Linked DNA regions of Homo sapiens: region 2 is linked to region 1. Evidence: fine-mapped expression QTL. A gene starts in region 1. The other region holds a variant in brackets. All regions are shown on one strand. Distances are between the middles of the regions. Region 1 holds the start of CSTF2 (cleavage stimulation factor subunit 2). Region 2 has its middle 7.2 kb from the start of TMEM35A.

Evidence for each region.
Region 2: its variant is fine-mapped to the expression of CSTF2 in esophagus mucosa (GTEx, PIP 0.97).

What each region holds. Positions count from the first base shown.
Region 1 is chrX:100,819,035-100,821,950 of GRCh38, forward strand. It overlaps CSTF2 (cleavage stimulation factor subunit 2), which reads left to right and starts at 1,357. Exons shown (of 14, transcript NM_001325.3): 1 at 1,357-1,440; 2 at 2,493-2,571. The coding sequence starts at 1,383. RefSeq lists enhancers at 1,029-1,088, 1,099-1,148, 1,429-1,588.
Region 2 is chrX:101,070,198-101,073,113 of GRCh38, forward strand. No RefSeq gene overlaps it. Among named protein-coding and RNA genes, the nearest start is that of TMEM35A, 7.2 kb to the right of the region's middle. The variant T/C (reference allele first, on the strand shown) is at 1,494.

The DNA of each region.
Region 1 (2,916 bases):
ACCATTCCATTACACAAGGTGTCCTCTTGGTCACACAGTGATTGCAAATGGGACTCTAGAGTCATGGAAATGGGTATACTCTTCTCAAACTTTCCATCTTTACCAGAATTACTTCTTAAAGTGATATGCTTCATGGTGTAAACTAGCACTTATTAATTTTTTCTAAATATTTATCATATTTCATATACTTTTATTTTGGAGATGGAGTTTCGCTCTTGTTGCCCAGGCTGGAGCGCAATGGCAGATCTCGGATCACCGCAACATCCATCTCCCGGGTTCAAGCGATTCTCTGGCCTCAGCCTCCTGAGCAGCTGGGATTACAGGCATGCGCCACCACGCCCGGCTAATTTTGTATTTTTAGTAGAAAAGGGGTTCTCCATGTTGGCCAGGCTGGTCTCCAACTCCCGACCTCAGGTGATGCGCCCGCCTCGGCCTCCCAAAGTGTTGGCATTACAGGCATGAGCCACCGCGCCCGGCCCATATACTTTTAATACATGTGGAATTAATAAAAACGTCCATGCCTCCAATTCCGTGGCTATTTTACCGTCTTCCTTTTTCGGACAAGTCCCTCAAAGGTAGCGCTCTTGGCTCCTTCCTTTGCTTATCCCCTAACCCTGTCCTCCTGAGGTGCCCCCTGGATTTCCTCCAACCCCGGCAGGGTCTGCCTTTCCGGGATGATACAACGACCTGCCCTGCATGCCATATCCCAGGCGCGTGGGCACCAAAGTGTGGAAAAACCGATGAATGACGTTTTCTGTTTCCGATACTCTGCCTGCCAGAATCCCCTGCCGCACCGCCCCACCACGAAGCACATGGAACCCACGGACTACACGAGGACAGAGGTCTGTTCTCCCTTTACCTCTCCCATTTCTTTAACTATGCTTCTCTCGGCTGGCATGCCCTTTCCTCATCTCACTCCACACACGAACAGGTTTAGCAAATAATATGCACGCTGCTGGGACGGGCCCAAGCATTTCCCTCCCTTGATAGGGCGGAACTAAAATGCAAGCCCCACAGTTGTCAGCAAAGGACTTCCCTGTTACCATGGTAAAGCCGCTGCGCCTTTATTGTGGTTGAGGAGTACTTGCATCAACCTAAGAGAAAATTAATAAGAAGGAAGTCTGCAGGCTGAAACCCTTCAAATTAGCCTGGACTCGCCTGCATCTGGCTCGGAACAGAGTTAATCTCAGGAGTGAGAATATAGCCCTCCGGTGGACGCAACTCGCGCCTGCGGCTAACAGAATGTCTCCAGGGGAGGGGCTCTGCGTCCGTTCCGCCCAGGCCCTTCCGGCTCACGCGCCGTACGGAAGCGTGCTCAGCGCTGGGCTTGTGCTCCGTACGGAAGTGTGCTTTGGCGCACCGGAAGCCGACTCAACAGAGCTATGGCGGGTTTGACTGTGAGAGACCCAGCGGTGGATCGTTCTCTACGTTCTGTGTTCGGTGAGAGGAATTCGTTGTAGTCAAGCTTCGGGGAGGGACTCCCCTCTGCACCTTCTATCTCATGAATCGCTACCGGAGCCGCTGACGGTTCGGACGTGCAGTTCTCCCTGCTTATCCTGTAGGGCGTCCAACCTGGTGGACTCATGAGCAAAGAGATATTCCCATTCTGCCGAGGTCTCGTAGGCTTTCCGCAATATCAGTGGGGAAGTTAGACTAGCGTTCAGCTTCTGTGCGTTTCTCCTTTCATGAGCTTCAATTATTCTCTAGAGGAGAAGGCTCACGGTAACAGCTCCTCACTGTCCCGTACTACTTCTCATCCTCTGCCCCAGAATACAGACTATATGCTGAGGGTATAGATCCTAGTGTCCACTTACTGTCCTCTCCTAAGGACTTTCATCCTTTGCTTTTTATCTGTAACATTTTAGTGCATCAATAGTGGTAGCGGCCACCTGGTGTCCTGAGATGGCTTGTAAGTGAATGAATGAATGAACTATTAAGATCTCCTCAGAGGAATTTTAAAAAGGATCGAAACGATTCTGAATTATCTTTTTGGCTGAAATAAGTTGTTTTTAAAAATACGTGTGATTATTTTAGAGTACCATTTGAAAGGGACATGACAAAGTAGTTCAGAATACTTTTTAAACATCTTTCACTACATTCATCGTCATTCTCCCTTAAATGTTGTATGTGTGGAAATACATAGGAACCTGTTTTAAAAATTATATTAAATAACATTGATATTTTTTGTAGTCACTGATGAGACTTGCAGATCTTTAGGTAAATACCAGTGCCAAAGTATTTATTTGCACCAAAGTTAAGGAAAATCTAACACGTGTCAGATCAGTCTGAGAACTAACATTTGAGAGTACCTACACATTTTGTATTTAGTTTCAGTGGTATATTTCCTTTGTTAAGAGGTCTGAAGAAATACAATGGAATTGGGATTGGAGAACACTATTTTGAGTCTTATATTTGATGATATAAGTTTACTTTCTCACTAAAGATCTATGTTATAAACTCAGAATTTTAATGTTACCTATTTTCTTCCTTAGTGGGGAACATTCCTTATGAAGCTACTGAAGAGCAGTTGAAGGACATCTTTTCTGAGGTTGGACCTGTTGTTAGTTTCAGGTGAGATCCCCTTTTCCTTCATGGTGGGAGCTTCTTAAAAATCACCACAGATTTGGCTCTTAGTAATAATGGCAGGTTTTCTTTACTGGTGACTTTTCACATACATTTTGTTCTTGTAACAGCTTTATTGAGATATAATTGATACACTATACAATTGACATTTATTCTTACCTAAAATATGTTTTTTTCGTTAAAAATGTTTTTTAGGCAGGGCATAGTGACTCAAGCCTGTAATCCCAGCACTTTGGGAGGCCGAGGCAGGCGGATCACCTGGGGTCAGGAGTTCGAGACCAGCCTGACCAATGTGGTGAAACCTTGTCTCTACTAAAAATACAAAAATTAGCC
Region 2 (2,916 bases), 250 kb after region 1:
ATCTGAGTAGCAGATGTGCTTAGTGAGAGAAAAGACAAATTAACTTGTCAAATCCTTTCTGTCTCAAGAGCGATAGATTCTTCCATAACAATGATTGTTTCCCAGTAGTAACAAGCATAGGTTTTCTTGCTTCTCTTTGTGTTCCAATTCATGGTTCCTTGATGTGTTGTAAGTAGGCCTCCAATCGTACTCTTGGCCCAGGCTAAGTAAATGTTAAAAGCTGACTTGTAGCTAATACTGTAAGATTTGAAAAAGAAATTAGGAATAACTATTGAAAGAGATACATAAATTACCATTATTTCCAGTTAATTTGTTTGTCTATCAAGAGAACACCCAAGGGCATCAATTGAAACACTCAGATATTTAAGAAGAGAGTTCAGAAAAGCGGCCAAATAACAATCAATAGTTTTCCTGTAAGCCAGCAACAACCAGCTAGAAGATATAATGGAATAAAAATGCATTAATGATGACAAAAATAGCATAAAACTCCTAAGAATAACTCTTTTGAACTCGGGCTCAAGATATCCTCCCTCCTCCGCCTCCCAAGTAGCTGGGACTACGAGCTCATGCCCACACACACAGCTAACTTTTTTTTTAATTTCATTGTAGAGATGGGGTCTCACTATGTTGCCAGGCTGATCTGGAACTCCTGGGCTCAAGTGGTCCTCCTGCCTTGGCCTCCTAAAGTGTTGGAATTACAGTCGTGAGCCACCACACCCAGCCAGGAATAACTCTTTAAAAAATGCATAGAGACTGGGTGCGGTGGCTCCTACAAGTGCCGAATCTTCTGTCTGTCTGTATTTATATATATATATTGCGTGTGTGTGTGTGTGTGTGTGTGTGTGTGTGTGTGTGTGTGTGTGTGTGATGTTTATATATAAAAGAGCTCTGATTGCCAGGCATGGTGGCTCATGCCTGTAATCCCTGCACTTTGGGAGGCCGAGGTTGGGGGGAATCACCTGAGGTCAGGAGTTTGAGACCAGCCTGGCCAACGTGGTGAAACCATCTCTACTAAAAATACAAAAATTAGCCGGGCATGGTGGCGCATGCTTGTAATCCCAGCTACTCAGGACGCTGAGGCAGGAGAATCGCTTGAACCAGGGAGGTGGAGGTTGCCGTGAGCCAAGATCGTGCCACTGCACTCTAGCCTGGGCGACAAGAGTGAAACTCTGTCTCAAAAAACAAACAAACCAACAAAAAACAACAACAAAAACAAACAAACAAACAAACAAAAACCCCTTTGATTAATTGGCTTAGAAAAATAAGCACTTAAATATTTTGTCAGAAAAATAGAAACTAATGCTTTTTTGTTCTCAAGACTTTAGTAATCTTTTGGAAATAAAAACAGTTTTAAAGATTATTGGTAAAATAAAATGTCTTGAAAATGCAGACATTTGTTCTAAATTAAGGTCAGATATCAGATTTGCTAAATGCTTTAAGGTCAAACTTTCTTTGACTTTTGAAAATTGTTCGATTTACCTACTTTGGAGCAT[T/C]GGATTATAGATAAGGCCTGGGGACATACGGAGAGCTATGCCAGCTAGCTATGCTAAAAAGAGTCAGACCTTATCTTCATTTCCGTCTGTCCTAGGCTCCACCCCAGTACCTAATTAAAATTACTTACTTATCAGGTTTTTCACTAAAAATAAAAGTTGCTAAGAGTTAACTTTGTAACATGTAATTAAGAACACTGGAGAAACAGTTTTACATACATGTAAAAGCATTGGGAATATGGCTTTTGTTAAAGGGAATGTAATTTTGTCTAGTTCAGAGGATTTTAAAGATTGTCTTTTTTTTTTTTTTTTTTTTTTTGAGACAGAGTCTCCCTCTGTGTCGCCAGGTTGGAGTGCAGTGGCGTGATCTCGGCTCACTGCAACTTCTGCCTCCCGGGTTCAAGCGATTCTCCTGCTGCAGCCTCCTGAGTAGCTGGGACGACAGGCATGTGCCGCCATGCCCAGCTAATTTTTATATTTTTAGTGGAGACGGGGTTTCACCATGTTGGCCAGGATGGTCTAGATCTCTTGACCTTGTGATCCACCCACCTCGGCCTCCCAAAGTGCTGGGATTACAGGCGTGAGCCACCACTCCTGGCCTTAAGGATTGTTTTAACCTAAAAGAGTAACAGAGCAAAACCGAAGGTTTAAGCAAAATGAAAAGGGTTTGTAAAGGGTCAGTCTTATAAAAAAAATTCTGTGGATATAAACAAGTTGGCTAGGATTTAAAAGAAATTATTTAGCTTTTTTCCGTAGGTTAAAACGTTGAAATGATACTGTTCTGGGGCCAGAATCCAGGCCCATCAATTTTCTAAGAAAACAGGGTTTTCTTAGAAGAGGATTTTCTTAAAAAATGGATCTGTTTGATGGAAAATTGTAGAGCGTTCTAAAAAGTTCATGAAAACCTTACCTTATGGTCAACTAATTAAAACTGGATAGAGATATAAAATGTTATTTAAAAAACTAGCCTTAACATTAAAGATGCACTAATGCAAACATGAAATTTGGTTTTCTCCTTTGAAGATGATTTTTATGTAATGTTAAAAGATAATGAAAGGGTTTTATTTCTTCCTTTGAGTAAATTGCAGGGAAAAAAGGGAAGACAGAGAAGAGACAAATTTAGTTAGCCTAATGCCATCTTTATTGGGTCTTGTTTGGAAAGCTAAGTCTCCTCCATCAGAGCAAAGGTTTTCTTTTTTTTTTTTTTTTGAGACGGAGTCTCCCTCTGTCGCCCAGGCTGGAGTGTGGTGGCACGATCTCGGCTCACTGCAACCTCTACCTCCCGAGTTCAAGCAATTCTCCTGCTTCATCCTCCTGAGTAGCTGGGATTACAGGTGTGCACCACCACGCCCGGCTAATTTTTTGTATTTTTAGTAGAGACAGGGTTTCGCCATGTTGGCCAGCGTGGTCTCGAACTCCCGACCTC